Homo sapiens: one gene and its partners. The protein of the gene in region 1 purifies or fractionates together with the protein of each later gene. This does not show direct contact. Each region holds a gene or a part of one and is shown in the gene's direction. Other genes may lie near its edges.

Region 1 (6,109 bases):
TGTGTCCCACCCTCTAGCCTGAGGCAACCACTAATCTACTTTCTGAATCTGTAAGTTTGCCTATTCTGGACATTTCATATGATTAGATTCATACAACATGTGGTCCTTTATGACTGGCTTCTTTCACTTAGCGTAATGCTGTCAGGATTCATCCATGTTGTAGCGTGTATCAGTACTTCATTCCTTTTAAGTGCCATATAATATTTCATTGTGGCTTTACCCCATTTTTTTCATCTATTCCTCAGTTGATAGACATGTGGGTTGTTTCTAGTTTTGACTGTCATTAATAATCCTGCTATGAATGTTTGTGCACAGGTTTTTGGGGGGACATATGTTTTTATTTCAATTGGGTGTATAGTTATGAGTGGAACTGCTGGATCATACGGAAATTCTATTTGTAAATTTTTGAGGAACCACCAAACTGTTTTCCAAAGCAGCTACACCATTTTACATTCCCACCAGCTGCAAATGAGAATTCCATTTTCTCCACATCCTCAGCAACCCTTGTCATTGTCTGTCTTTTATAGCAATCCTAGGGAGTGTGAAGTGATATCTCACTGTGGTTTTGATTTGCATTTTCATGATGACTAATGATTTTGAGCATCTTTTCAGTGCTTGTGGGTTATTTTATATCTTCGGCGAAATGTTCATTTAGTTCTTTGTCCATTTTTAAGCTGGGTTACTTATATTTTTACTACAGAGGAGTTATAGATGTTCTTTGTATATTGTAGATACGAATTCCTTATATATGTGATTTGCAAAATTTTTCTCCCCTTCTGCAGGTTGTCTTTGCAGTTTTTGATGCCATCATCTGTAGCATATGAGTCTTTAATTTTGATGGAGTCTAATTTATCTATTGTTTTCTTTTGTCACATATTTTTGGTGGTATAGCTGAGAAATCATTGCCCAACCCAAGGTCAAACTATTTATTCTGTTTTATAGTTTAGCTCTTACATTTAGGTCTTTGATCCATTTTGAGATCATTTTTTATATGGTGTGAAGTAACGTTCTAATTTCATTCTTTTGCATTCATTCATTTGTCCCAGCACCAGTTGCTGAAAAAACTATTCATTCTCCTGTTTCTTTGTCTTGGAACCCTTTTCAAAAATCAATTTAATATAAGAATGTATTTATGGACGTTCCTTTCTGTTCAATTGATTTATGTGTGTATCTTATGCCAGTATCACACTTTGTTGATTGCTACAATTTTATAGTAACTTTTGAAATTAGGAAGTGTGAGTTTTCCAACTTTATTTTACTTTTCAAGACTATTTTGGCTCTTCTGGGTTCCTTGCATTTACATATAAATTTTAGAATCAATTTATCAGCTTCTGGGATTTTGATAGAGATTACATTAAATCTAAAGGTCAATCTGGGGAATATTGCCATCTTCACAATATAAAATCTTTTGTTCCATGCGTCTCTTCATTTTTCTATATCTTCTTTAATTTTTTTGAACAATGATTTACAGTTTTCAGTGTAGAAGTCTTACACTTTCCTTGTTAAATTTATTCCTAACTATTGTAGTTTGGGATGCAATTTTAAATAAAATTGTTAATATTATTTTCAGATTTTCATTGCTAGTGTACAGCAATAAAAATTATTTTTATATTGATCTTATATCCTGCAACCTTGCTAAACTTGTTTATTAGTTCCAATATTTTTAAAGGGCTTCCTTAGAATTTTATATATTCAAAAGTCATGTAATCTGCAATAAAGTTTTATTTTTCCACTCCAATATAGAGGCTTTTTATTTCTTTTTCTTGCCTAATTGTCTGGCTAGAACCTCTAATACAATGCCGAATAGAAGTGTACAAAGCAGACAACCTTGTGTTCCTGATCTTGGGGGAAAACACCCAATCCTTTGCCATTAAATATGATGATCACTGTGAGTTTTTCATAGATACCATTTGCCAGGTTGAGGAAGTTCACTTCTATTTGTAGCTGGCTGAGTTAACACACTTTTCATTACTTGCTTGATGTCAGTATTCTCTGCTAGACTATAAGCCTGGGTATGTCTTGTTTGTTGCTATTTCCTTAGCACAAAGCGAAACACCTACCCTGGAGAAACTAGTTGGTAACTTTCTCCCAAATAACCGAAATAAATCATTCTTTCAGGTTTATACCTTCCTTTGTTTTGTTCTCATCCTAGCATTTGTTAGTATTAGCTTACATCCTAGTCTTCCTGCTATTTTAGCTATTCTCTATTTTCTTCCCCTTTGGTGTACTGGAAGGCAGGTAGTTAATATTATCTTGTTATTATCTCTAATACATCATGACCCATATTATCTTATGAAGGCCTATTTTTCCCTCACTTTTTTGAAAAATTTGAAAATTTCCCTCACTTTTTTGAAAAAGTTGAAAGTGTCCTGGTCACTTCAACTCTATCCAATATTCCCTTACTTTGCTATTACAAAGTTTCTTCTAGGAGTTCCAACACTCTGAGGTCAGCAAAGAGACTTTTATCGTTAGCCAGGATTCGATCCAGAGAAGTCCCTCTCCTTGCTCACTTGATCCTCCGTGTTACAAAGTGTCCCTGGAGCGAGCAAAGTCTTTGTCCTGAGTTAAGCGAGCTTCTCCCAGAGATGAGGGTTATTGGAGCTCCATCACCAGTCTACTTGGTTTCCAGGTCACTCCCTACAAAACTGTGTACAAGAGGTCTTTTATCTGCCCTTGGACTCACCGGGCAAGTTGAGGTATACTTTTGTTGTAAGAATACTTCTGTTCCTCTCTCTGGCTCATCTTCAACCCATCTGCTCTCCTCTGACCTAGCAGATTGGGATATAGGTATATGCAACTGGGATGAACTCCTCTTCCTCTCTTCCCATCATATATATTTCTTTTAAACAAAGTGTATGCCTTGTTGTCACATTGCAGGCAATACCTATGTTAAAATATGTTAAAATATGTTTAAATATAAAGTTCATACTTGAAAGAATGCTAACACTTAACTCATTGCTCTGTGCTCCTTGGACACTTGAGGCTGTATTGATTTTAATTGATTTCAGAGTCTAGAGGTTTAATACACGGCAAATCACACCCTGCTGAGAGTTTGTCTAGCTAATGTCATCTACATCCATGTTGATCTATCAATATGCCAGTAAAATGCCTTATTCTAACAAAATTGTCATTTATAACAATTTCCCACTGTATAAAAATACAGTTTCTTGAGGAAAGGGCCACCTTCTCCTATTCTGCAGGATTTAGGTGAAATATGACAACAGTGGCCCTGGTCTTACTGAGACCAACAACCATTTTCTGCAGGATGAGTCTACTTCTAGCCCAGTAAATCCATCTCTCCAATCTCATTCTGTTCATCAAAAGAAATTCTTTTCGAGAGACCTGGCTAGATGTTCGGTTGAAGACTGACACCCCAGGGCAGATGGAACTGTCAGAGTTCAAGTTAAACTCTCCTATACTTCTGAGTTGAGAGTTGTGAGTCTGGATGTGCCTCTGGTGATGTGAAAACACTCAACACCATTGGCAAGCATACACCTGGTGGTTACCAGGCACCTTGAGATGCCAGGGTGTCCAGCCTTCTGGAGCTGGCTTTGGAAGAAAAATGTATCCAACTGGGAAACCGACATGTACACTCCAAGGGCATAAACCAAGGAGGAGGAAGAGTTGGAATCCGGGAAACAGAAGATCCAACACTAGACAGAGACAGGGAAGTCCAAGGACCAGCGCTATGCAGCAGAGCAAGAGAGTGAGCCATTCCGAGAGGAGCTGGAGGGGTGGCCTTTGGGGAAAATGGGAGCAATTTTTGATCAGATTGCTTAATTATAGAAAAAATAATGTTCAGAGGGATTTTGAAATTCTGCTGGAGAGCTTTGGAAGAATTAGTAGGATAATGACTTAAACTAAGCAGACAAAAAAGTGAGGTAGTTATTAACTCCTGGAAGAATAAAGAGTTACAGAAGAGAGAAAATGTGATCCTAGAGTATTTTTTCACTCAGCAGTGAACAGTACATATATAATTGTAATAAAATACAAATGGAATATTGATTTAACAAAAATGTGACATAAATATATCAGAAGGAGGGAAGATGTAGACATGAAAGGGGGTTAGAAGCAACCCCACCCCATCTTGCATCATAAGAAGTCAATAGGCATTTAAAATTGACAAATCAAGAATTAACTGCATAAGCACATTACCTAGAAATATGGAGGTAAACATCAGAAGAAAGAGTTTAGGGAGGGGAATTTGGATAGAAATGGGACAAGAACCTGCTATTTTTCCTTCGTGCCTTGTAGTACTCTTTGAATTTTCTAACCATGTATCTTGGACTGAGTTTTCATGGAAAAAAAAATAGGCAAACTAGCAAGTAGTCTGAGAGACAAGAGAGGTGGAGGGAGGCAGGGAAGAAGAGTTGAGGCCTCTTTACCCCATGGGTAGGGCAGCTGGCTGATTATTGCAGAAAACATGACTATGCACGAATGTCACTTTATTCCAAGCCCCCTGCACTTGAGAAAAACCACTCCTCTGCAGAAGTCCAAAGCTAGCCATCTGGAGCTTGGATGGGACAGAGCTCAGGGCTGTTGTTACTATAGCAGCCCCTGGCCTCAGCCCTTCTAACCTGCCTGGAGATGGGAGGAACATCTCTCCCCCAAGTTTCCCTCCACTCCAGTGCCAGCCCTCAAGGTGCTAAAATGGGCTATGATATGAACTCAAGCTTGGGGCAGGACAGGTGGGGGGGTGCCCTTTAAGGAATTTTGAAGAATGGGGTAGGGTCATCCATTAAGGGGCCATGGGCACGTTGGGGTCTGTCAGCCTTGCCAGCAGGAAGTGCCAGTGCTTCCTTTACTGTGGGATGATCCAGAACAGCATCTTTGGAATGGGGCCCCACTTCCATGGTCACTCAAAGGAAGGAGTTTCTTTACTCACCCTTGGCCCTCTGCATTTGCACCCCCGTGTCTTTCTCTAGGACAAGCTCCCAGTGATCACTCAAGAATCTGGCTCTCATTCTAAGAGGCTGTGCTGCCCAGTATGGTGGTTGTGATAAATCTAAACCAGCCCTGCATGAAACAGAGTCCAAGCTGTCTCCCAACAGCCTGGGTTCGGTCCTTGGCTGGCCCAGGCCCAGTTAAGCCTGTGGCCACCAAGCAGCTCATCTGAGCACTTTGGGATGTATTCAGCCTACGTTGCCCTGGAAAAGGAAGCAGGAGATGTCTCCCTGTGGGAAAGGAGAAGAGAAGTTGTCTCTGAGTCCCCTGTCACCAGTTGGATTCATTTCTTGGAAGAGCCAGAATGAGCCACTTTGACCACCCTCGGGTGCTATGGGTGACACAAGAGCTGTCCACTGGGTGTTTGCAGAATAATTACACTATCTTATGTCTGGATCCTGATGATTTCACAGCTAAATGGCAAAAATAAAACATGTTTCCCATAAAGGTCTCTCATTCATATTCTGTCTTAAAAATACATTTGGGGAAGAGGAAAAGTACCCAGCAAGGCAGACGCTTCCCTCACTCTCTCCTCATCCATGGTGCGGTCACTGGGTGTCTCAAAAAGGTGAGGCCCACAGAGGATGGAAGAGATTCCACAGCATAACTGGGCCAGATCCCGCTCAGAAGAATTTGCAGTTGGAAAGCTCATTTCTGGATGCATCAACCCAGTAGGGGAATCGTTGCAAATGGGTGTGTCAAAAGGACAGGAAGGTGGGAAGCTTGCTGAGTGTGACTTTCTGAGTGGCACGGTCGGAGGACAGGATGGTGTGGACAGGGCTGCATCATCACACACACACCCATGCCAGGAGCAAGGGCAGTGCTCGGCAGTGATGGCATGCTGTATACAAGTACCAAACAGGCCCAAGTGACCTCATCCACAGGGACTGTTGTAAAGCCTCCACAGTCATTTCAAGTAGAATAGCTACCTGCCTAAGGAGTTGAACCCCTCTTGCTAATGCTTTTGAATAGCGAGAGGGTCAGACACACAGCAAAGTTTGGGACAGGTCACTTTGCCTCCCAGTCCCCTGCTTGGTTAGCCAGGATAGATGCCCATGTTTGTGAGCATGGACTTTGGAGTTAAAGCTAATATCTAAAGATCCTGAATCCTAGGCTGTCAGACTGCCCTGTTGCATAAGATTTTCTGCATGCAAAAAAACTGGGG
Region 2 (7,933 bases), on another chromosome or scaffold:
TGAAAGAGCAGTGTGTATGTGTATGGAAATGACTGGATACTGTGCTGGATGCTGGGGTTAAGAGGTTAGCAGAAGAGAAACAGTCTCAGGGCTGGCCATCTAGCAGGGGCAGTGGGATCAAACCAAATATGTAACCAGAAGGGAGAAAGAAGTGTGATGAGGGAGCAGTTCTGGTGGTTGGACTTCATAAGTGCCTGGAACTCTTCCCAGAGGTCTGACGGATAGGTTGAAGAGGGAAAGAAGAATTTGGAGCAGAAAGTTTGGGTGGTGTCTCTGATGCAAAAGAGAGAGGGGAGCACACAGGGTTGGATAGAAGCCAGAGGTGTTGCAGAGCAGCTGGGCCCGCCTCGCTGAGTCTGGGCCACCAGAAGGATTGGACCTATTGTCCTAAGTGAGACAGATGTCGGAAAAGGTTTTCAGCAGAGTAGAGAGATCATTTTGTTATGACAGGTTTCAGTTACAAATCAGTTTATGTTGGGAGAAGTATTTTTTTCTTAAATCCACTGTGACCTCTTCTCTGACAAAGGGGGTGTTTGCCAGCTGCAGCAGCCACTAGGTCAGCTTGGTCATGGGGTGGGTGGCATGGCAGGGCAGGGCCCAAACTCGGGAGAATGGGACAGACTGTTATCACTAGGGACCTGCTGTTACCAGGGAAACTGTTAAAATGAGCTGGTTTTCATCAGGTTATTGTAGGATGGAATACATTTTTTGGAGACAAGAAAGTTTTGTGGAAACAGGCATTTATTCACAGATGATTGAAAGCCATATTTACTGGTGAAATGTATGTGCCCCGTGTTTAAAGTGACTTGTGGATTTGCTTTTTCTTTTTTAAATAGGACATTGAAGAATCCCTTTTGGAGCCAGGTACTGATAAGAGAAACACGACAGTTATGGTTTGAAAGTTTTCACACTATTATTTTAAAGCTGTCTATATTTTAAGCTGTGTTATGATCTTGTAAATTGCTCTAATGGTGGACAATCCAGATCATACAAGGATCAGAGATTGGAAACCCATTCGTATCACCAGATCTGTGGAAGAGCCATTCTGGCTTCTTGAGGTCAAATACATTTGGTGCAATGTAGTAGTGATTCTTTTCATGTCTAACCACGTAGAGTGGCATTTAATTCCCCCGTCCCCGTGATTCCTCCATGTGTTTCTACACATGAAACAGATCTTGTGATATTTTGCTGCAGTCATTTTGATTAACGCAGTTAAGGCAGGATAAAGCTGTTGTCAGGGCACTTACCACCTGAGAAGTGACTGGATTCCAGAAGAGGAAACAGAGTTTCTCCGTGAAAATTTTCAACATATTATTCCCCTTCCGGACTGCGTTTATCTCCCACCGTCAGAAGAGATTCTGATTTTCATATTGGATTGTTCTGTTAAAAGAAATTCAAAGAAATTTGGAAGTTGAGCTGTCATTGAATGGTGATTGCATTCGGTTCAGCACCTTGGACATTGGAAAATCAGTCAGAAGACCCAGACTTGAACAAAAACTCGAAGAAGACTATTGAGAACCAGCCGCGTGGTTGTAGGTGTTTAAATCTGTGGGGGCCTTTTCTCTTCCGTGTAGCGTAGAGGCTTACCTAGAGGCGGTCGCGGCGCAGGTAGTGTAACCAGTATAACTTTGTGTACCCGCGGGTTTTCCAATCTCTGTGTAGCTAGCAGTTCTCTTCGTGTTAGTGTGGCAGCCGTGCCAGTTCCACATTTGTGATTGCTTTATTTCCCTGGTAATTAAACCTTGTGCCATTCTATTCCTGTTAAATCCGTAGAAAATGAGAAAATACTCGACATTTTGGGGGAAACTTGTAAATCTGAGCCAGTAAAAGAAGAAAGTTCCGAGCTGGAGCAGCCATTTGCACAGGACACAAGTAGCGTGGGGCCAGACAGAAAGCTTGCGGAGGAAGAGGACCTATTTGACAGCGCCCATCCGGAAGAGGGTGATTTAGATTTGGCCAGCGAGTCAACAGCACACGCTCAGTCGAGCAAGGCAGACAGCCTGTTAGCGGTAGTGAAAAGGGAGCCCGCGGAGCAGCCAGGCGATGGCGAGAGGACGGACTGTGAGCCTGTAGGGCTAGAGCCGGCAGTTGAGCAGAGTAGTGCGGCCTCCGAGCTCGCGGAGGCCTCTAGCGAGGAGCTCGCAGAAGCACCCACGGAAGCCCCAAGCCCAGAAGCCAGAGATAGCAAAGAAGACGGGAGGAAGTTTGATTTTGACGCTTGTAATGAAGTCCCTCCGGCTCCTAAAGAGTCCTCAACCAGTGAGGGCGCTGATCAGAAAATGAGGTTTGTTTTTTCTCAGTTTTAGACCAGACGCTATCTCCTTTTCATTGGTCATGTAATGACACACATAAGCTGTTTTTTTCTGCAATTGGCCAGCCAGACTGACGAAATTGTAGTTTTGCTTCTAAAGAATGTTTCGTTTCTCTTTGTGTGTTTTTAATGGGTGATTCAATTCCTTTTCTTTTTCTCAACCTACCATGGTTGTGTTCTTAAATTGTTAATTGTTATCTTCAGCTAAATCGAATTGACTTTTACAAATCTGACATTGTATTTTTGGGGTCAGATTTTCCAATATAAGCTTGCAGAGGTGTCTGTTAAAATTTTATTTCAGACTAATTTTCTGGTAGGTATTCAGTTTTAGCACATAATCATATTTTTAGTTTTGTTCTCTTTCGTTTTTTTCCTGTATGAGTAACATTAACTTTTGTCTCTAGCTCTTTTAAGGAAGAAAAAGATATAAAGCCAATCATTAAAGATGAAAAAGGTATGATTTAATTTAACGTGGTAGGGAGCCAGGTATGGTTCCCTTATTTTGGGAGGAGGGGCCTGGAGATATACACACTTTGGATTCAGTAATTTGTTTTGTTATGGGTTACCGGAATCAACCACCTAATGGTTTCTTGAGAGACTAGTTTTAGAAGTTCGCAAGCACCTGCATTTTATGTTTCTCTTGTGGTTGTCATCTATGGGATGGTGAAAAGCACATTACAAGAAAGGAATAATTCTGCTCATTGAAGACTGTTTCAAGGATTTTAGAGACTGCCGTCTTGGATGAGATCTGATCATCAAAAGACATTTCAGTTCATAACTGACATGGGCATGATTATTCCTTGAGTAAGGAAACTCAGTTTTTGCTGTCCAGATTTTCAGCCTTCTGTGTGTTGGCATGTGTGTGTGCGTTAAATTCTTAAGTCAGCAGTTGGGATTGGGCGTCGTTAGGGTTTTTAAAGAGGGCTGCGGTCTTAAGAATGGTTGTGCTTCCTGTTAGGCCTTGGGGTGATGCCTAAGAATCTCCCTCTCGTGCCAGGTCGGGTCGGCAGCGGTTCTGGTCGGAACCTGTGGGTCAGCGGGCTGTCCTCCACAACACGCGCTACGGATCTCAAGAACCTTTTCAGCAAGTATGGGAAGGTATGCCTTCCCTTGCCTCATACCATCCACTGTGATTCAGAGTTAAAAAGGAAGCTCTGCTGGGCACGGTGGTTCACGTCTATAATCCCAGCAGTTTGGGAGGCTGAGGCAGGAGGATTGCTTGAGCCCAGGAGTTCAAGACCAGCCTGGGCAACATAGCAAGATGTTGTGTTTACTAAAAAATGGAACGACAGCAGCGAAGCTCGCCCAGTCTTGTGCAGTGCACCTTGTTTCCTGACTCACAGTAACTAGGGTGCGGAGCAGGGCAGGTGGTTGGTCATATCACAACAGTGCTCAGAACAGCTGTATAAACAGCTTCTCTCTCAATGTTCTTGGGGTTCTTTCTAACTGGTCTCAAAGAGACTGGTGGTCTTTTGTCTTGTGCAAAACTTAAAGCTTACATGATGAGATTTTTCCCTTAAGAATAATTTGGGAGGCCGAGGCGGGCGTATCACCTAAAGTCAGGAGTTGGAGACCAGCCTGGCCAACATGGCGAAACCCTGTCTCTGCTAAAAATACAAAAATCAGCCAGCCGTGGTGTTCTGTGCCTGTAGTCGCAGCTACTCGGGAAGCTGAGGTGGGAGAATCACTTGAACCCAGGAGGCAGAGGTTGCAGTGAGCCAAGATTGTGCCACTGCACTCCAGCCTGGGTAACAGAGCGAGACTATGTCATAAAAAAAAAAAAAAAAAAAAAGAATGAAGTGAATAATTGACTTTCATATCATTTAGCATTTTAAGTATATAGTCTCATAACTAGAACATGATCGTGGTTCAAAAATAAATCACTAAGATGCTGCTCATGGGGGTGGGAGAAAAATAGTACAATTCAGCAGCTTTCCAAAGGAAGGTGAGGACAATTTAAAATGATTCCACTGTTTGAAATTAATTAAGAGTCTTCTTTTTTTGTTTGTTTGTTGTTCTTTTTTTTTTTTTTTTTTTTTTTGAGACTGCGTCTCGCTCTGTTGCCCAGGCTGAAGTGCAGTGGTGTGATCTTGGCTCACTGCAGCCTCCGCCTCCCTCCCAGGTTCAAGTGATTCTCGTGCCTTAGCTTCTCGAGTAGCTGGGATTACAGGCACCCACCACCATGCCTGGCTAATTTTTGTATTTTCAGTAGAGATGGGGTTTCGCCATGTTGGCCAGACTGGTCTCCAACTCCTGACCTATGTGATCTGCCTGCTTGGCCTCCCAAAATGCTGGGATTACAGGCGTGAGCCACCGCGCCTAGCCAAGAGTCTTCTGGTAAGCAATTGGCACTGCCCTGGTCTCCTGGGTGCCTCTGGGGAGTGGCTTCCAAGGGACAAGGTTCGGACCATTTAGTGTCTGGAGGGTGCCCTGATTCCAGGCAGAGTGGGCCCTGTCTGACACAGTTTTCTGGCTACAGAAGCCGTTCCTTTGTCTAGGTCTGTGTCACCCGATCAGGTGTTGGTTAATGTTTCATTGCTTAAGAAGCGGACAGGACCCGGAGAAAGCGTGCTGTTCAATTTTTCTCTGAACAGTCTGTGTGTTCAGCAAGGGCTTAGGAAATTCTTATAGCCATGAATAACCTGTTTATTCAGTTACTTTGTTGACTTCACTCGGACACTGATGATTAAGCAGAGGTAAACATACGTGGTCACTGTCATCACAGATTTTTTAGTCTGGCGGGAAAAAGACCATTTAAGAAATAAACACATATGATGTGTTGTGATGAGCGTATTAAGGAATATTAGAGCACGCCGTCAGTGTGTTGGGGAGGCCGTGTTTAGATTTGGGAGGCAGCTTCAGCAGAGCTCGCTGAAGAAGTGACATTCAGCTGAGGCGTGAGTGACAGAGTTGGCCTTACCTGTGGGGCTCAGCTCTGGACAAAAACAGAAGGACGTAGGAAGGCCAGAGGGGCAGGACACCACTCAGCTACTTGACTGAAGTATGCAGAGCCTCCAGGGCGGATGGCATAGCTCAGGGATAGGGACATACAAGCTTAGTATGGTGCCTGCTCTCATTTGGGTTTTGTCTGTCATCAGAAGAGATATACTTGTAAGGATGATTAATTTGATGGGAAGGTAGAATGGGAAGTGGCATCTGTGTTTCTCTCAGGAGAGTCTTCTGTCCCTTTGGCCCTGGACAGATTCAGGCAGAGCCTTGACTCCTCCATTTGTGTGGTCAAAACCAAGGACGTCAGATGGGAACCTCAAGCTTGTGGGTTCCACCTTGTCATTTCACAGTTGGGGCCATGAGGTCCAGAGACGGGGAATGCCTTGCTTAGGTTGATGCCCTGAGTCAGAGATAGGGCAGAGACCAGGACTCCTGTGTCCCGGGGAAATGTTTACTCTGCGCGCCAGTGGTGGTGGGCTTGGCGTTAGATCTACTGTCTTGTTCTCTATTTTCTGTTCATGTTTGTTTATTGATCTCTTTTTCCCATTTATCTGCCTTCTTGTGGGTCGAGTCCTTTTTATGACTGATGGCTTATTTGCTCTAACTCTGTGTCATTGTGGTTTACTGTAGGATTACAGTACACATCTTCCCTTACAGTCTGTCTGCAAGGGGTGCTCTGTTGGTTTCAGCGTAGTGCAAGAACTCTGTGGGAATATACTTGCATTTCCCCTCCCGTCGATCTTTGTGATGTTATTGTCATACGGTTTACTTCTCTTTAAGAAGTCACCCAATATTTTATTGGCTTTGACTTGTTGTGGTTTGGCTTTTTTGCTTTGAACAGTTGTGTTTTTTTTTGTTTTTGTTTTTGTTTTTGTTTGTTTTTGAGACGGAGTCTCGCTCTGTCGCCTAGGCTGGAGTGCAGTGGCGCGATCTCGGCTCACTGCAAGCTCTGCCTCCTGGGTTCATGCCATTCTCCTGCCTCAGCCTCCCAAGTAGCTGGAACTACAGGTGCCCGCCACCAGGCCTGGCTAATTTTTTGTATTTTAAGTAGAGATGGGGTTTCACTGTGTTAGTCAGGATGGTCTTGATCTCCTGACCTCGTGATCCTCCCACCTCGGCCTCCCAAAGTGCTGAGATTACAGGCGTGAGCCACCACGCCCAGCCAAACAGTTATATTTTAAAGAGACCCAGAAATGACAGGAAAAAATCATGTTCACCTCACCAGGTGCTCTTCGTTGCTTTTTGTTGTATATCCAAGTTCCCATCGGAGATCATCTTCCTCCCTCCTGAAGGAATTGAATGTTTCCTGTAGTGCAGGTTTGCTGGTGATACGTTCTTGTTTCTTTTGCATGTCAGAAAAAGTCTTTACTTTGTCTTCATTTTGAAATAAATTTTCACTGGGTATAGAATTCTAGGTTAATTTAATCTTTGTTCCTTCAGTTACCAATTTGTGTCTTTTCTCTCTCTTTTTCTGTGGCTGCTTTTAAGTTTCTTCTGGTTTTTTTGTTTTGTTTTGTTTTCCCTTAGAGACAGGATCTCACTGTGTCACCCAGGCTGGAGTACAGTGGTGCTCACTGCAGCCTCGAGCTCCCGGGCTCAAGCGATCCTCTCACCTCAGCCTCCTGAGTAGCTGAGACCACAGGCATGTACCACTACACCCAGCTAATTTTTAAAATTTTTGGTACAGATGTGGTTTCTCTGTGTTGCCCAGGCTGGTTTTGAACACCTGGCCTCAAGTGATCTACCTGCCTTGGCCTCACAAAGTGCTGGGATTACAGGCATGAGCCACTGTGCCCAGCCTGTGCCTGGTAATTTTTTACTGGATGTTGTGAATTGTATTTTTTGGGTGCTAGTTATACTTGTATCTCTACAAATACCCTTGAGCTTTTTTCTGGGACACAGCTGAGGTACTGGACACACACTAAGGCAGGGCCAAAGTAGCCTTCAGTTTGGGCTGATTTTGTCTCACCACTGGGCAGTGCCCTCTGAGTAGTGGGTCTGATGGCCCGTGAATTACCAGCCTTTCCACCCTGGCTATTGGGAAGAGCAAACCATTTGTGGCCCTGAGTGCCCCTCCAGTGGTTGTTCCCTCTGCTCCTGATTGTTCCCTCTGCTCCTTATGGGTGGTGCTGTCCCAGCCTCTGGTTTCCTCGCACACGTGTGCACTGGGTGGGAGGAACCCTCTGTGGGTCTCTTCAGCTTGCTCTGCGTGGCTCTGTGTGGCTGTGTCCTCTCTGATACTCAGTTCCGTGATTTCTCTCTGTCTTGGTCTCAGAATCTCAGTGCTGTCTTACCCATCCCCCATTGCCTGGGAATCTAGGCAGTGAGCAGGGGCAGTCAGGGAGCTCTCAGGGATTGTTGTCTTGGGCAGCCTGATGTCCAGGATCTGAAAACTGTCGTTGCCTACGTTTCATCACATTTGTTAGTTGTTTCAGGCAGGAAGACAATGCTTAGTTCTCCCATCTCAGCCAGAAGTGGAAGTCCTTTCCCCATGGGGACATTTCTGACAGTCCATGTCTGTGTCAGAGCTCTTCTCAGGCCCAGCTGGAGTGGATGGGTGCATTTCTTAGTAGCCCCACAGCTGTTTGTGGGCACAGTGGAAATAGAGAAAACAATGTGGATGGGTAGGACTTCTGGTTATTAGTTGTGAGTAATGAAGTTTAATGGTTTTAT
Region 3 (7,933 bases), on another chromosome or scaffold:
TGTTTTTTGTTTTTTTTGAGATAGAATCTCACTCTGTCACCCAGGCTGGAGTAGTGCAGTGGCGTGATCTCAGCCCACTGTAACCTCTGCCTCTGCCTCCCGGGTTCAAGTGATTCCCCTGTCTCAGCCTCCCAAGTAGCTGCGATTACAGGCGCCCGCCACCACACCCAGCTAATTTGTGTATTTTTAGTAGAGACAGGGTTTCACCGTGTTGGCCCTGCTGGTCTTGAACTCCTGATCTTGTGATCTACCTGCCTTGGCCTCCCAAAGTGCTGGGATTACAGGCGTAAGCCACTGCACCCGGCCAATTTTTTTTTTCTTATGGAAAATCTCAAACATGTACGAAAACAGAATATCACATAATGACCACTCACGCCCCACACACGTGCTCATCATCTGGCTTCAGCTGCCGGCCCTGCTGCTTTTTATTTTGATGTTATAAAATACTGCTGTCCCGGTATCAGTATCTTTGTGTGTGCCCTGTCCCCTGAGGCAGTTGTTGATGAAAAGTGGTTATATTTCAGAGGGTCTGGGCTATCACATGCTTAACTGTCTACTTCACATCACACGCGGGTTTGGAGCCATAAAATGCTAAAGCGGAAGGACCTCCGCCAGGGGCCAGCCAGGTAGCCCACCCTGTGCTACAGAGGTGGCATCACAAACATAAGTTGCAGCCCTTCCAGAAGCGGCCTTGTTTACCCAGAACCCACTTCCCTCTCAGTCACCTGGTTTGCGGTGCACTTAGCATCCCCTTCATTGTGGGTGCCTTGAATATTCTTCATAAATAACAACTGATGGTTTTTTAAAATACTGTATCTTATTGCAACCAGTTAGCTCTTGTCAAGAGCCATTTATCACAGCATCTGAAAGAGAAAGGGACTCTGTGTTCATTGAGTGGTGGGGCGGGAAAGATGATTTTTTCTTTAGGGCCTCCATATTTCCCTTAAATTTAAGCCTTCTGGATATTCTAAGAGGAGGGATTGCTTCTAAACTTCTGTCACGCTGGGTTTGACATTTTCTTACAGGTGTGGAAAATGGTCTAACATAATGCCTGTCACAAAGTAGGTAAAAATGTTTGCTGAATAAAGGCATGGATTCTGTAATTTTTGCTTTGTAAGAAAAGGCTATTTTTTATCATGGGGAATTTTTTAAAGAGACCTGTTTATAGTGGAGTCACATCATATGCCTCCTGAAGCAAATTTAGATATATGCTGAGCCATGAATTTTTTTTTTTTTTTTTAAAGAAAAATGAGGCCGGGCACAGTGGCTCACGTCTATAATCCCAGCACTTTGGGAGGCCGAGGCAGGCGGATCACGAGGTCAGGAGATCAAGACCATCCTGGCTAACATGGTGAAACCCCATCTCTACTAAAAATAGAAAAATTTAGCCAGGCATGGCAGCGGGCGCCTGTACTCCCAGCTACTCAGGAGGCTGAGGCAGGAGAATCGCTTGAACCTAGGAGGCAGAGGTTGCAGTGAGCCGAGATCGTGCCACTGCACTCCAGCCTGGGCGACAGAGCGAGACTCCATCTCAAAAAGAAAAGAAAAGAAAAATGACAAGAATTGGCCATTTAAAATTGCAGGTGACTGCCCTGGCATCAGCGAGTGTGCCCTTGCCATGAAGTCCCCAGTCAGTGCGGTTCTCACAGCATGGTTCAGGGGCTCACCCCAGCCCCACGCCATGCAGTGCACATCTGCACAGGTCTGCTCTGACGGCACGGCGTCCCCCACCGTAGACCCTGCATATGATGTGGCTCCATGCTAGTCATCCCCTTCCCAGCAGCCGATGCTCAGGTGGGTAGCAGGGCCTGCAAAGATTTCCACTCTGTAACATGTATCATAATTCTCACCTTTCCTCAATAGCTTCCTTTGCTCCAATAAGCTTTGCAATCAAGGCCAAAGAAAATGATCTGCTTCCCCTGGAAAAAAATCGTGTTAAGCTAGATGATGACAGTGATGATGATGAAGAAAGCAAAGAAGGCCAAGAAAGTTCTAGTAGTGCTGCAAACACTAACCCAGCAGTTGCCCCACCCTGTGTAGTTGTTGAGGAGAAGAAGCCTCAACTTACCCAGGAGGAGCTAGAAGCAAAGCAAGGTTTGTTGATAGCTTTTAAACTTCTTGAAAGAAAGGAAATACACAAATATAAGATTTATCTGCTAAGCCAAAAAATCTCGAGGCTGCCAACTAGAATCTGAAGCCTTTGGAAATCGACCTATTTGGGAGTTGTGTAACATGTCTGAGGTTTTGAAACGTTCTCTTTTAGAGGAATGAGCTCTGCTCTTCACTGAGCCTCAAATGCAGTGCCGCTGGCAGTTTGTTTTCGAAGAAACTGAGTTGGCCGTCTTAGCTCTAATGCGCCACAGTGGAATGCATTAATGGCAGCTCACTTTGCACTTGGCTGGCAGCCCCAGGGTAAAAGGCTCAGCCTGTCTTCCCAGCTCAGGAACCAAACTAGGAGATGCCCTCTTGTGAGGCTGCCTACCCACAGAACCATTGGGCCCTTGAAGGTGGTGTGTCCCCAGCTGGTTTTCCGGCTGCGGCTCATCTTCATGGGCCGCAGTGTGGCCACCACACCCACCCCAACACTGCTGGCAGCATGGGGACAGCATGTAGTCTTCCCATCCCGACTCCAGAATAAATTCTGCTCTGCATTAAAGCAGTCAAATAATGGTTGCTGCATTGTGGTTGTTATCTATTCTAACTGATTTTCTTAAATTGCTTTTCCTGTATACACACATTCAGATCAAGCAACATTTGAAAGAGGCCAATTTTCAGGCCAGGCGCGGTAGCTCATGCCTGTAATCCCAGCACTTTGGGAGGCTAAGGTGGGTGGATCACCTGAGGTCAGAAGTTAGAAACCAGCCTGGCCAACATGGTGAGACCCCATCTCTACTGAAAAAACAAAATTAGCCGGGCGTGGTGGCACACGCCTGTAATCCCAGCTACTTGGGAGGCTGAGGCAGGAGAATCGCTTGAACCCGGGAGGCAGAGGTTGCAGTGAGCTGAGATCACGCCATTGCACTACAGCCTGGGCAACAAGAGCAAAAACTCCGTCTCAAAGAAAAAAAAAAAAAGCCATTTTTCAACCACAATCCACCATCAAGAACTTCCATTGTGCTGTGGTGTTCTCCCTAAGCAAACTTGTACTCATGCCTGTACATCTGAATCTGTCCTTCCTGTGTGTAAACTAACCAACTGTCGGATCATTTGGAATAAAACACTTATAGAGTATTCATTGCCTGGTGTGAATATTTTGGATATATGCTGAGAGCCACTCTGAGGTTTTCATTATTCCAGCTTTCGTTAGTGTAGAGTCTCACCAACCTTCTAACTCTGAAAGTAAAATGTCCAAAAAAGGGCACGTTATAAACTAATTCTCTCAAAATTTGATTTGTCCAATGTATGTACCTATTCAGAAACTTTAACTAACTGCATTGTATGACACTTTTGCAACCTGTGAAAATTAAGATCAGATAAAATACTGTTTGCTCTAAACTTCTCTTTTTTCTTTGTTTATTCCTTAAGCAAAGCAAAAGCTGGAAGATCGCCTCGCAGCTGCTGCCCGGGAAAAGCTGGCCCAGGCGTCTAAGGAGTCAAAAGAGAAACAGCTTCAAGCAGAACGTAAAAGGAAAGCGGCGTTATTTTTACAGACCCTCAAAAATCCTCTGCCGGAAGCAGAAGCTGGGAAAATTGAGGAGAGTCCTTTCAGTGTCGAGGTATAGTAAAATCCCACATTGGTATCTGCGGGGCTGTGTGATACATAGAGGCAGGGAGGATGTGTCTCCCTCCAGCTGCCCTAGTCTCTGGCCTGAGTGAGGGATATGAGCTCCCAGCTCTTCCTCCCGACATGGTTGAGTGGCTTTTACTCTATAGCAGTGAATCTAAGAGTTTGCCAGCAGTCTCCCCCGTCAGTGCACAGTCACGCCAGCAGCAAACACTGCCCGCGATTTCAGGGGAGCCTCTGCTTCACGGCTGCCCTTATGGGGCTGGCAGGAGGGCTTGGGGAGTGCCTCCCATGGGTCCTGCTGGGGAAATGTGGTGGACACACTTCACTGAAGCCCCGCCTCCGCAGCAGCACCAGTATTGCGCTCACACGTGGGGCAGAAATCCTTTTGCCACGGTCTGTATCAATGTCAGCACTTTAATTAAAGAGAAAAAGGAAGAGGGAGTTAAGAGAACAGACTCCAGGAGTACATGGCTCCTTCCTCAGTGGTGTGAGCAGGAATAGGGCCTTACATGGGGGTCATCACGTGGCTGCCTTACAAGTCTCCCTGCCAAGGAGGGGGTGCTCAGAACAGTGCCTCAGACCAGAGGCCTTCAGTAGACACTGGCTCCTGAGTGCCAAGGGGATTGCTCCCTTGTGTGTCCGAGACCAGAGGCCTTCAGTAGACACTGGCTCCTGTGCCAAGGGGATTGCTCCCATGCGTGTCCGAGACCAGAGGCCTTCAGTAGACACTGGCTCCTGTGCCAAGGGGATTGCTCCCATGCGTGTCCGAGACCAGAGGCCTTCAGTAGACACTGGCTCCTGTGCCAAGGGGATTGCTCCCATGCGTGTCCGAGACCAGAGGCCTTCAGTAGACACTGGCTCCTGTGCCAAGGGGATTGCTCCCATGCGTGTCCGAGACCAGAGGCCTTCAGGAAACACATGCCTTCCGCAGCAGCAGCACAGCAATTAATCATAATCAGCAAAAACTCTACTTTTTTTTTTGTCACATCAATTTAGAATCTTTTAAGTTTAATTTTAGATTCTTTATAGTAGTTATGTCTCTGAATTTTATTTTGTATTTAAACTACAAGAATATGCAGAAATTCTTTGGGGAGTTTAGGAGCATTTTGGAGACATAACTCTTAAAGTAAGAAAAATAATAGAGTAGGACACATCCTTTGAGGATTAAAGGAGGGTTGTCTTTGTATCAATAAACTGTGACAAAACTGGGCATTTTAGTAGCTAGTCCTGTAATTGTAGGTGAATTAAAAGCTGACAACATTTGAACTATAATATTAGAATGGGTTTACATCTACAATTAGACAATAGCTAAAAAGTTGTGGTTTTATGTTATTTCAAGAACACTTAAAAATCATTTTATAAAATCTTTCTCAACCTAATCTCTCTCTTTAAAAAAATGAATGAACACAGGAACAGAAAATCAGACACCACATGTTCTCGCTTATAAGTGGGAGCTAAACATTGAGCACACATGGACACAGAGAAGAGAACAGCAGACTCGAGGGCTTCATTGAGGGTGGAGGGAGGGAGGGAGGAGGGTGAAGATCAAAAACCTCCCTGTTAGCTACTATGCTCACTGCCTGGGTGATGAAAGAAATAAAAGTTGGAAAGAATAAAAAAGGTAGTAACTCCGGGAATTTTACTTTTTGAAAAGTTTCAAACCTTCAAAAAATTGGAAAGAATGGGAAGATGCCCCCAGCACCCCAGGCGATTGCATGCGCGTGCTCGCTCATCTATATGTGCGCACGTTGACCCACGCGTGCTCGCCCTCTCTGAGAGTCGTTGCATATGTGGTGACTGCTCTGCCCTGAATACTGCAGCTGCATTTCCCATGAAGGGCCTTCTCCTGGGAAACACAGCACTGCATGCAGATTGTCCACCGATGGTGTCCATCACTTCCTCTGCAGGCCGCAGCCACGTTGCTCCAAGTGGCCCCACGTGTCTTTTGTAGATCTTTTTTTCCCAAAGTACAGAATGAGCCTTTCACTTTAATTATATTGACGTTTCTAAGAGTCCAGGGCCATTATTGAAAACTGATTTTCTGCTTGAAGTCACTTCGCTTATTTTTCTGTGGAAAACAACATTCTAAGCTCAGACTTTTCAAATGATGCTGAAGGCTGAATCAGCTTTCTTGTTTTGGGAGTCAGTCTGAAATCCTCTCACATCTGGCAGGAGGCCTCAGAAATAATAACTGACGGGCAAGGAGGGGAGAATTAGAAGAGCAGAGAAGATGAGTTTGTGTGAGACCCTGTCGAGTCCCCGAGTGCCGCAGGGTGGGCTCCTGCCCTGAGTCCCGAGTGCTCTGGCCACCCGCTGTAGCCTCAGCTCCTCTGAGCCATTTGACATGCCAGCCCCAGAAACGAACATTTTCAGGCAAGGTGGGAACCCCCAGCAGCCCCCCGGGACGCCGTCTCACAGCCTTTCCACAGCTCTTCAGAGTCGGGGCTGCCTCCTGGCTCCTCACTTCAGCCAGTTATGGCCGAAGGATCTGTGGTCATTCCTTAGCTTTAATAGGATTTCTTGGCTGGACGTGGTGGCTCATACCTGTAATCCGAACACTTTGGGAGGCCAAGGCGGGTGGATCGCTTGAGGCCAGGAGTTCGAGATCAGTCTGGGGTCAACATGGTGAAACCTCGTCTCTACTAAAAATACAAAAAATTAGCCGAGCGTGGTGGAGCATGCCTGTAATCCCAGCTACTCGGGAGGCTGAGGCAGGAGAATCTCTTGAACCTGGCAGGCAGAGGTTGCAGTGAGCCAAGACTGCACCACTGTACTCCAGCCTGGGCGACAGAGCGAGACTCCTTCTCAAAAAAAAAAAGGATGTTCTGCAGCAATAAGGGGATGAAATACACAACAACAAAAATGATCATGAGGACGCTTGTAGCCACACAGAAAATGCTTCTGATGTAATAAGCAGGAGAAGCACAGTATAAAATATATCCACTTCTGTGGTTACAGCCATGAAAATATGCATGTAGCAAGGAGGGAAGGGAATTTAAGAAAGTAAGGGACCTGTTACAGTGGCGTACGGGTTCTCATGTTTTGATATCGTTTGTGCAGCGGGTAAAGGGGTTAATTGAAAGACATTCACAGGAATGCTTTAACCAGTTACATTACATGACTATACGTGTATGTCGTCATAAAATTTCCAGTGAAACTCAGTCACAAGTATAATTTATCACTAGCCCAGTTTTTCCCAATCTGCTGTAGTTCCGCATCACAGCAACCAGAATTATTTCCTTATAAACATAAGATATGTTACAGCTTAGGTCTGTGTCCTATTTATTTATTTTATTTTATTTATTTATTTATTTGTTTGTTTTTTGAGACAGAGTCTTGCTCTCTCGCCCAGGCTGGAGTGCAGTGGCGCAGTCTTGGCTCACTGCAACCTCCGCCTCCCGGGTTCACACCATTCTCCTGCCTCAGCCTCCCGAGTAGCTGGGACTACAGGCACCCGCCACCACGCCCGGCTAATTTTTTTGTATTTTTAGTAGAGACGGGGTTTCACCATGTTAGCCAAGATGGTCTCAATCTGTCCTATTTATTTTTACACGTACCCTCTCACCTCTCCTGTTTGCAGGCATTGGTTTTTGAATCTGTAGAACATAGAAATGAGCGTTTAAATCACTAGGATGCTCTCCCTGGATATATGTGTGTGTCTGTGTATGCAGATTACAGCTACCAAGCCATTTCAACAAAAATGTAATGGTTGTAGCAGATGATGATAAATGTCTTTAATTGCTTCTGAAACAAAAATACTTGTAATTAAATTGGCAATTGCCATAAAGAAAATTCAAACTCGAAAATATTTTTAGCCTAAAACAACTTCTGGGACAGGTTACCCTTGACTTTACTAAGTATTCTAGCATCTGCTTTACTCGCTGATGTTGAGACATTTGACCCAGCTATGTAGTTGTGAAATTCTCGGAGTCCAGGAGGACTTGAGACAAGACCACATTCGGCCACCGCACGCCCTGGGTGAGGAAGCCTGCGTGGCTGAGGGCACGTCGGCACCAGGAGGCTCATGGCACCCCCAGGTCTGTCGGGGCCGTGGCTAGCTCGGGCTGGCTCTGCAGGGTGGCATGAGGACACTCCCTTACACAAGGCCTGGCATAACATGGCAGGAATTTTGCTGTCACCTTAAAGTTAACTGAAAACAGCCACAGTGCAGCTTATGTGCCTGAAGGACAGTCACTTCTCTGTCTT
Region 4 (8,752 bases), on another chromosome or scaffold:
ATAAATAAATAAATAGGCCGGCTGGGCGCAGTGGCTCACACCTGTAATCCCAGCACTTTGGGAGGCTGAGGCGGGTGGATCACCTGAGGTCAGGAGTTCGAAATTAGCCTGGCCAACATGGTGAAACCTCAGCTCTACTAAAAATAAAAAAAATTAAAAAAAAAAATGAGCTGGGAGTGGTGGCAGGCGCCTGTAATTCTAGCTACTGGGAAAGCTGAGGCAGGAGAATCGCTTGAACCCAGGATGCAGAGGTTGCAGTGAGCCGATATTGCACCATTGCACTCGACCCTGGGCGATAGAGTGAGATTCTGTCTCAAAAAAAGTAATAAAATAAATAAAATAAATAGGCTGGGCGCGGTGGCTCACGCCTGTAATTCCAGCACTTTGGGAGGCCGAGGCGGGGCGGGTCACTTGAGGTCGGGAATTCAAGACCAGCCTGGCCAACATGGTGAAACCCCATCTCTACTAAAAATACAAAAAATTTGGCCGGGCGCAGTGGCTCACGCCTGTAATCCCAACACTTTGGGAGGCAGAGGCGGGCGGATCGTGAGGTCAGGAGATCGAGACTGTCCTGGCTAATACAGTGAAACCCCGCCTCTACTAAAAATACAAAAAATTAGCCGGGCATGGTGATGGGCACCTGTAGTCCGAGCTACTCGGGAGGCTGAAGCAGGAGAACGGCGTGAACCCGGGAGGCGGAGCTTGCAGTGAGCCGAGATTGGCGGGGCGCAGTGACTCACGCCTGTAATCCCAGTACTTTGGGAGGCCGAGGCTGGCGGATCACAAGGTCAAGAAATGAAGACCATCCTGGCCAACATGGTGAAACCCTGTCTCTACCAAAAAGACAAAAATCAGCTGGGCGTGGTGGCACGTACCTGTAGTCCCAGCTACTCAGGAGGCTGAGGCAGGAAAATCGCTTGAACCTGGGGGGCGGAGGTTGTGGTGAGCCGAGATTGTCCAGCCTGGGCAACAAGAGTGAAACTCGGTCTCAAAAAAAAAAAAAAAAATTAGCTAGGCATTGTGCATGCCTGTAATCCCAGCTACTCCGGAGGCTGAGACAGCAGAATCGCTTGAACCTGGGAGGCGGAGGTTGCAGTGAGCCGAGATTGCACCACTGCACTCCAGCCTGGGAGACAGAGCGAGACTCTGTCTCAAAAACTAAAAAACTTGGCAGGGCACGGTGGGTCACACCTGTAATCCCAGCACTTTGGGAGGTCCAGGCAGGTGGATATAACCTGAGGTCAGGAGTTCTCGACCAGCCTGGACAACACGGTGAAACCCCATCTCTACTAAAATACAAAAAATTAGACAGGTGTGGTGGCGTGCGCGTGTAGTCCCAGCTACTCGGAAGGCTGAGGCAGGAAAATTGCTTGAATCTGGGAGGCAGAGGTTGCAGTGAGCCAAGATTACGACACTGCACTCCAGCCTGGGAGACACAGCGAGACTCTGTCTCAAAAACTAACTAAACAGGCAGGGCACGGTGGCTCACACCTGTAATCCCAGCACTTTGGGAGGCCGAGGCGAGCGAATCACAAGGTCACGAGTGTGAGACTGCAGGGCCAACATGGTGAAACCCCGTCTCTACTAAAAACACAAAAAATTAGTTGGGCATGGTGGTGGGCGCCTGTAATCCCAGCTACTTGGGAGGCTGAGGCAGGAGAATCACTTGAACCCTGGAGGCAGAGGTTGCAGTGAGCCGAGATTGTGCCACTGCTCTCCAGCCCGTGTGACAGTACGAGGCTCTGTCTCAAAAAAATAAAAATAAATAAATAAATAAATAAAAATAAAAAAGTCAGATGAAGTGTCAGAAGGGCTTGGCAGACAATGTTCCACAATGTTCCATCATGACACTGAAGAAGTACAGGGAATTCCTGCTTGGTGGGATTTTTGTTTTCCCCATTACTTAAAAGCAGATGGCCATCTAGAATTGTAGAATGGCCCCATTGAAACTACAGAGATGGGGCCCCTTCAGGACCATACCTTGAAAAGACAATGGCTGTCCTCTTAGATGTGGTCTATGTTCTCAATCAGTGATTTTGTCCATAACCCAGAATACATGAGGTCCAAAAATCAAGGTGTAAAGGAAGGAATGGCACCATCCACAATCGAACATAGTGAGCTACTTTGGTGTCCTTCCTTTCCATTCCTACAAACCTGAAGTATTAGTTCTTGGTGTGTTAAAGAAAACTTTTTGGACAACATAGCTATGAGCATGAGTGAACATTTTATTACAATCTTACATGCAAGGAAAAAAGGTCTCTTGTTGGCCAATTAAGATTCACTCTAATAGGGACATTTTATAGGAGAAGAGAATAATTATCTAACCATTAGATCTGAGATTGGATCCAGAAAGACGATAGTCAGGGTAAAGGTAACACAATTCTTGGCTGGCAACTGGGGTACCAGGTGGGATGGTGGGGGGAGCACCAGCTTCTTAAAACAAGTTTCATCCACTGATGATTTATTTTAAGCATTTTGTCAGGAATTTTCTTCTCGCTGTGTCACCCAGGCTCTAGTGTAGTGGTGTGAGCTCGGCTCCCTGCAACCTCTGTCTCCTGGGTTCAAGCGATTCTCCTGCCTCAGCCTCCTGAGTAGCTGAGACTACAAGCAACTGCCACCACACCCGGCTAATTTTTTTTGTATTTTTAGTAGAGACAGGGTTTCACCACGTTGGCCAGGCTGCTCCTGACCTCGTGATCCACCTGCCTAGAGTTCTCAAAGTGCTGGGATCACAGGCGTGAGCCACTGTGCCTGGCCTTATTTTTATTTTTATTTATTTATTTTTTTTGAGACAAAGTCTCCACTGGAGTACAGTGGCATGATTATAGCTCACTGTAGCTTCAACCTCCTTCAACCTCCTGGGCTCCAGTGATTCTCCTGCCTCAGCCTCCCAAGTAGCTGGGGCCACAGGTGCATAGCATGAAGCCGGGCTAATGTTATGACTTCTTTTTTTTTTTTTTTGAGACGGAGTCTCGCTCTGTTGCCCAGGCTGGAGTGCAGTGGGGCTATCTGCAAGCTCCACCTCCCGGGTTCAAACCATTCTCCTGCCTCAGCCTCCCGAGTAGCTGGGACTACAGGCGCCCGCCACTATGCCCGGCTCATTTTTTGTATTTTTAGTAGAGACGGGGTTTCACTGGGTTAGCCAGGATGGTCTCGATCTCCTGTCCTCGTGATCTGCCCGCCTCGGCCTCCCAAAGTGCTGGGATTACAGGCGTGAGCCACTGCGCCCGGCCATGTTTTGACTTTTTGAAGAAACTGGGGTCTCACGATGTTGCCCAGGCTGGTCTTGAACCTCTGGGCTCAAGCAATCCTCCTGTGCTAGAATTATAGGCATGAGCCACTGTGCCGGCTGCAACATTTAATTTAATTAAAGTCTTTCTGTCACTCAGGCTGGAGTGCATGATCTTAGCTCACTGCAACCTCTGCCTCCCGGATTCAAGCGATTCTCCCCTCAGCTTCCCGAGTAACTGGTGATTACAGGTGCCGGCCACCACGCTTGGCTAATTTTTTTTTTTTTTTTTTTTTTTTTTTGAGACGGAGTCTTGCTCTGTCATCCAGGCTGGAGTGCAGTGGTGCCATCTTGGCTCACTGCAACCTCCACCCCCTAGGTTCAAGCGATTCTTCTGCCTCAGTCTCCCAAGTAGCTGGGATTACAGGCGCGCCACACCATGCCTGGCTAATTTTTTGTCTTTTTAGTAGAGACGGGGTTTCGTCACGTTGGCCAGGCTGATCTCAAACTCCTGACCTCAAGTGATCCGCCAGCCTCGGCCTCCCAAAGTGTTGGGATTATGGGTGTGTGCCACCACGCCCCGCTGCCAGCTGGAACATTTAAAAAACAGTAGGATCCGCTGGGCGCGGTGGCTGACGCCCGTAATCCCAGCACTTTGAGAGGCCGAGGCGGGCGGATCACGAGGTCAGGAGATCAAGACCATCCTGGCTAACGCGGTGAAACGCCGTCTCTACTAAAAATACAAAAAATCAGCTGGGCGTGGTGGCGGGCGCCTGTAGTCCCAGCTACTTGGGAGGCTGAGGCAGGAGAATGGCGTGAACCCGGGAGGCGGAGCTTGCAGTGAGCCGAGATCCGCGCCACTGCACTCCAGCCTGGGCGACAGAGCGAGACTCTGCCTCAAAAAAAAAAAAAAAAAAGTAGGATCAATATACCAGGAAGTCACATGGTGCCTCTGTCTCCAGATTTATCACTGTTGACACGGTTTTTCTCTCTTCCTGGAATCTAAGTGGTCTTTGCTTTGTCAGGGCCTGAAATAAGGTATTTCTTTTCTTTTTTTTTTGAGACAAGAGTCTCACTCTGTTGCCCAGGCTGGAGTGCAGTGGCATAATCTCGGCTCACTGCAGCCTCGCGACCTCCCGGGATCGGGCGATTCTCCCTCTTCAACATCCCGAGCAGCTGGGACTACAGGTGTGAGCCATCATGTCCTGCTAATTTTTGTATTTTTAGTAGAGAAGGGGTTTTACCATGTTCGTCAGGCTGGTCTCCAACCCGAGCTCAAGCGATCCGCCCGCCCCGGCATCCCAAAGTGCTAGGATTACAGGCGTGAGCAACATCGCCCCGCCTGAAATAAGGTATTTCTTCTGCCTGGAACCATCTCTTCTTTTTCATGTACCAGCCTAAAAGAACAATTACAAGACCCTCCTCTAACACTCCACCCACCCCCTTTATTCTTTAACTCTGTTTCTCTCCCTTGGGGCATTATCGGTTAAGTTCCATGAAGACAGAAACTGTTCCCATGCTCCATCACAGGGACTGGCACTGTAGAAAGAGCTAACAAGTATTTAAGGAAGATCCCTGGATTCGAGGTTACAGTGAGGTATGATCGTGTCACAGCACTGCAGTCTGGGCGACAGAGCAAGACTCTGTCTCTTAAAAAAAAAATCTTGCTGTGCTTTTTAGAACTAATCCTATGACCGTGAACCGATTACTTAAAACACCGAACTTCAGTCTGCAAATGGGAATAGCAGCAGCTTATGTTAGGACGGTTATGAGGGTCAAAAGATTTTGTTTGTACAGTCTACGACACCGGCCAGTGTTTCTAGCTCTGCTATTTGAGAGCCTTCCATGGGTCCTACACCCCAGGTCCTTAAACTCCCCTGAGGGACTACCAAGCCCCGCCCCTCTCGCATCCAATGATGACATCATCGACTGGGTTGTCGAGTGACGTCACCTCCGGGCTGGCTGGGCTTCATCGCTTCTCCGGAAACCTCCGACTCTCGGCACCTGGCCTCCAGCTTTCGGTTATTTTTTTTTTCCCTCTCCGTAGCCTGAATTCCTTCCCTCCCATTCTCCCACCTAAAACTATTGGCTCTTCCCGCCTTCCTTCAAACTAGCAATTTTCGGTTTTTCCCTCTTGCTCTCCGGCGAATTCCTGAAAGTCGTTTATTCTCCCCTTCAGCCCCGCCCGTTCAGCTCATTCTCTTAATCGCATTACCCTGGCTGCTTTTCTTTCGGCTGTTTCCACCTCCTGCCACCCACCCGGACACCGCTTTCGGCTCTTTCCGGACCGTCTCAGTTTCTCCTCCTTCCCCGGTCCCGATCGGCTTAGGCTATTTATGGCTCCCCTAGGTTTCTCATGCTCTCTCTAGCCCCACCCATATCACCACCTTCAGCTCTTTCTGGCTCTCCCCCGTCGCCTCCTCGCTCCTGCTCAGCTCCTTTCGGCTATTTCCGCCTCCCCTCGGCCTCGCCCTTTGCCTTCGGCTCTTTCCGCCGGCCTTCGGGCAAGCGGTCTCTACCCCTCTCCTGCACGTGACACGGCCTCCGCCTCCGCCTCTCAGTTCCCCCTCCCATCTCACCCTTCCTCCCGCCTCAGCCTCTAGGCTGGTTCGGGCCGAGCCGCCATTTTGTGTCAATTCCTGATTGCGGCGGGGGCCGGGCAGCCGGGGCACCCAGGGCGGGCAGAGAAGGGAGACAGTCGGCCCGTCTCCGCGGCCCGTTCCCTCTCTCCCTCAAATCCTTTTTTTCTTTTTAACCCCCCACCCCCCTCGCTCGCTCTCCTCTTCTCCCCTTACCCTTCGCTTGCTCCATCGCGCGCGGCCCGCGCTAATTACACCCAACCACCCACCAGTGTCCGTGTCTCCCGGGTGTCCCGCCCCCCGGGGGTGCGTGGGGGGGGGGCTCTCGCCCCTATGAGGGCCCCGCGCCAGTGAGCGAGTGACCGCAAGGGTGGGCTGCGGAGAAAGCAGGCGGCGAGCGGCCCTCCGAGGCCTAGGCCGTGCGGCCTACGCGGAGGTCAGCGCAGAGGTGATTCCGAAACCGAAAAAATATATACCCCATTCCCATCAGGAGCCCTCCGAGCTTAAGTGTGCCCCTCCCGCCACGCCCAAGCAGTCCTTTTTCGTGCATTAACATCCCCTCCCCCCCAAAGGAACTATGGAGGCCGCGCCCGGGACCCCCCCGCCGCCGCCATCAGAGTCGCCGCCGCCGCCATCGCCGCCGCCGCCATCAACGCCTTCGCCTCCTCCGTGTTCCCCCGACGCCCGCCCGGCCACCCCGCACCTCCTCCACCACCGCCTCCCGCTCCCTGACGACAGGTCAGGCCCCCGGTTGGGCCGGGGCTGCGTCCCCGGGGGGAGGAAGAGGAGGAGGAGGAAGGGGGGCGGCCGCCATGTTGGGCCGGGCCGCGGAGGAGGAGGAGGAGGAGGAGGAGGAGGAAGGGCGGGGTCGGTGGGTGTCTCTCGATCGCTTGCTCGCTCGCTCTTTCTCGCTTGCTTTCTCTCCCGGCCTCATGCGTTTCCCCCCCCTCGCGGCGCTCGCCCGCTCTCCCTCGCTCTCGCTCTGTCTTTTTTGGGCGCCATGCTGAGGGGAAGGTGAGGAGGCGCCCCTCGGACCCCCCGCGCCCGTCCGCCTGTCCTGGGGAGGGGGCGCCGTGGGGGGTGCTGCGGAGACCCACGGGGGTCCTGGCTGCCCCTGCGCCCGGAGCTGGCAGCTACGGGCCCGCTTGCCCGTCGCCTGGCTTCGGGGAAGGGGATGGGGGAGGGGCTCCGGACCCTTTTTGGGGGGATCTCGAACAACAGCCCCGCTCTTAGGGGTTTGGGGTTGGGGGTCTCCCAGCCCCCGGCAGTATCCTTTCTCCTGGGGGAGGCACACCCTGTCCTACTTGGATGATAGGTACTTTAGCTTAGGAGGCAGAAGGTGGGGGTTCATTCAGGTCCCTTCTCCATCCTTGTAATTGGGGGTCATTTGGGTGGGTGCTCTATAGCACTTGTATTTTTTGGCGGGGGGTGTTTTTTAGCTATCCCCTAGAAGGCCGAATTGGGGAGGGGGGAGATGCATCTCCAGCCCTTTTGATGAAAACCCCAGCCTATTTTTTTAGAGAAGACTCTTCCCCGTGTTTTTGCTAAAGGGCAGGGGTCCTCTCGCTTTTCGTAGGTAGGTGACGTGAGGGAGGATTCTCAGCCTTGTTTTGCGGGGGTAAGGTTTGGTTTCCCTGCCTTGTAGGGAGAGGAAGTTGGTCCCGCGCTTTCTCCTGGGGTTCCCCCCTCTGTCGGGGTAAAATGGGGCACCGTCTCTTCCGGGAGAGAAAAGGAGATTTCCTTGTGCTTTGGCAGGGCGTTAAAGGAAGCGCCCCCTTCTCTTTATTAAGTCCGAAACGCGGGCCCCCCACGCCCTTCTCTGGCTGGCGGGTGATAATGGGGTCAGCCCGGCGCGTTTCAGGGCGAGGTTGGGGCCCCGTTTCCTTCCCCTGCTCGAGCAGAAGGAGTTGGGGTGCAGGGTTCGCCCACTGTTTCCTGGTGGGGCGAGAGAAGAGGCGGCTGGAGAGTAGGTTTGGACACGGACGGTGGGTTTCAGCCGGCAGGAAAGCGAGTCTTGGAGGGAATGGGGGTGGAGAGGGGAAGAGAACGCTCTGGACAGATGGCTACTCCGTCGCAGCCCTGGCTGGGGAGCCGCTGAGGACCCTTCCTTAGCCGGGGGGTCTCAGCCAGGGCTTCCCTTGCCAGGCTGTACGTACGACCCCTTCTCCCCACTCCCACCTCCCCTTTCCCCTTTCTCCTTCACAGACCATACTTTGCCTTTTAAAAGAAATGCCACCCACATTCAGAGACACAAGTGCAGCAGTTTGGTGAGCTTTTACAACATTTTTTTTTTCTGTTTTGTTCTAATTAAATGTATCGTCCTGGGAATCGCAGCCCATCGCAGCCCGACTCCAGTTCAAGGAAATAAACAGATTAGCAAAGGTCTGTTCGCTAAGCCCTCGTTGGGCTTCCGGGCCCCCTCTCCGGGGGCAGGTGCATTACTCAAAGGTGCTTACACGCTTTATTCGACCTCTAAGGAGTTCTCTTATGTCAGAAGTGTATGTCTTACAATGGGTTGGGATGGTAAGTAGCCTCTTTTATTGAGTAATTCAATGATCTCCCTCTTTTTCTCCCTTTACTGCCTGCCTTCCTCCTCGCCTTTAGACCAAAGTGATGCTTGAGAGTGAATTGATATGTTCGAATCAGGATTCTAACCCTGTTGAGCCCTTTTAGACTTGCACATCCTTTCAATGTTTAATTTTTAAAATTTGACGTACACAGTTTTCTCAGAAAAAAAAGTGTGTTACTGTAACATGACAAAAATCGATGTAAAAGGCCCGTATGTTTTCAGACCCTTGGCATCCTTCTTTCCATTTCAATCCATTGCTTTGTCTCCAGCCTTCATCTTTGAAGAAAGTGGATACTTCAAGTCCATTTGTAGGAGACAAGCTTACTGGATTTGATTTATGATGCAGGTATTCAAATTAATGGTTCCCCTCCCCCC

The links.
Region 2: the proteins of CAPN13 (region 1) and SAFB2 purify together in Homo sapiens (affinity purification with mass spectrometry; 2 studies listed by BioGRID and IntAct, with this or other methods). This does not show direct contact.
Region 3: the proteins of CAPN13 (region 1) and SFSWAP purify together in Homo sapiens (affinity purification with mass spectrometry; 2 studies listed by BioGRID and IntAct, with this or other methods). This does not show direct contact.
Region 4: the proteins of CAPN13 (region 1) and ZC3H4 purify together in Homo sapiens (affinity purification with mass spectrometry; 2 studies listed by BioGRID and IntAct, with this or other methods). This does not show direct contact.

The regions. Positions count from the first base shown.
Region 1 is NC_000002.12:30,722,053-30,728,161, reverse strand, and holds the end of CAPN13 (calpain-13), read left to right. Parts: intron 1-782; exon of another isoform or gene 783-1,563; intron 1,564-3,264; exon of another isoform or gene 3,265-3,928; intron 3,929-4,925; 3' UTR 4,926-5,391; downstream 5,392-6,109.
Region 2 is NC_000019.10:5,605,471-5,613,403, reverse strand, and holds part of SAFB2 (scaffold attachment factor B2), read left to right. Parts: intron 1-836; coding exon 837-864; intron 865-1,773; coding exon 1,774-2,284; intron 2,285-2,715; coding exon 2,716-2,765; intron 2,766-3,308; coding exon 3,309-3,409; intron 3,410-7,933. UniProt on the Homo sapiens protein: Binds to scaffold/matrix attachment region (S/MAR) DNA. Can function as an estrogen receptor corepressor and can also inhibit cell proliferation.
Region 3 is NC_000012.12:131,762,593-131,770,525, forward strand, and holds part of SFSWAP (splicing factor, suppressor of white-apricot homolog), read left to right. Parts: intron 1-1,863; coding exon 1,864-2,094; intron 2,095-3,525; coding exon 3,526-3,716; intron 3,717-7,933.
Region 4 is NC_000019.10:47,110,218-47,118,969, reverse strand, and holds the start of ZC3H4 (zinc finger CCCH domain-containing protein 4), read left to right. Parts: upstream 1-5,193; 5' UTR 5,194-5,250; exon of another isoform or gene 5,251-6,256; intron 6,257-6,380; 5' UTR 6,381-6,385; coding exon 6,386-6,546; intron 6,547-6,711; exon of another isoform or gene 6,712-6,808; coding exon of another isoform or gene 6,809-6,822; intron 6,823-8,013; exon of another isoform or gene 8,014-8,037; coding exon of another isoform or gene 8,038-8,075; intron 8,076-8,095; exon of another isoform or gene 8,096-8,308; coding exon of another isoform or gene 8,309-8,331; intron 8,332-8,752. UniProt on the Homo sapiens protein: RNA-binding protein that suppresses transcription of long non-coding RNAs (lncRNAs). LncRNAs are defined as transcripts more than 200 nucleotides that are not translated into protein.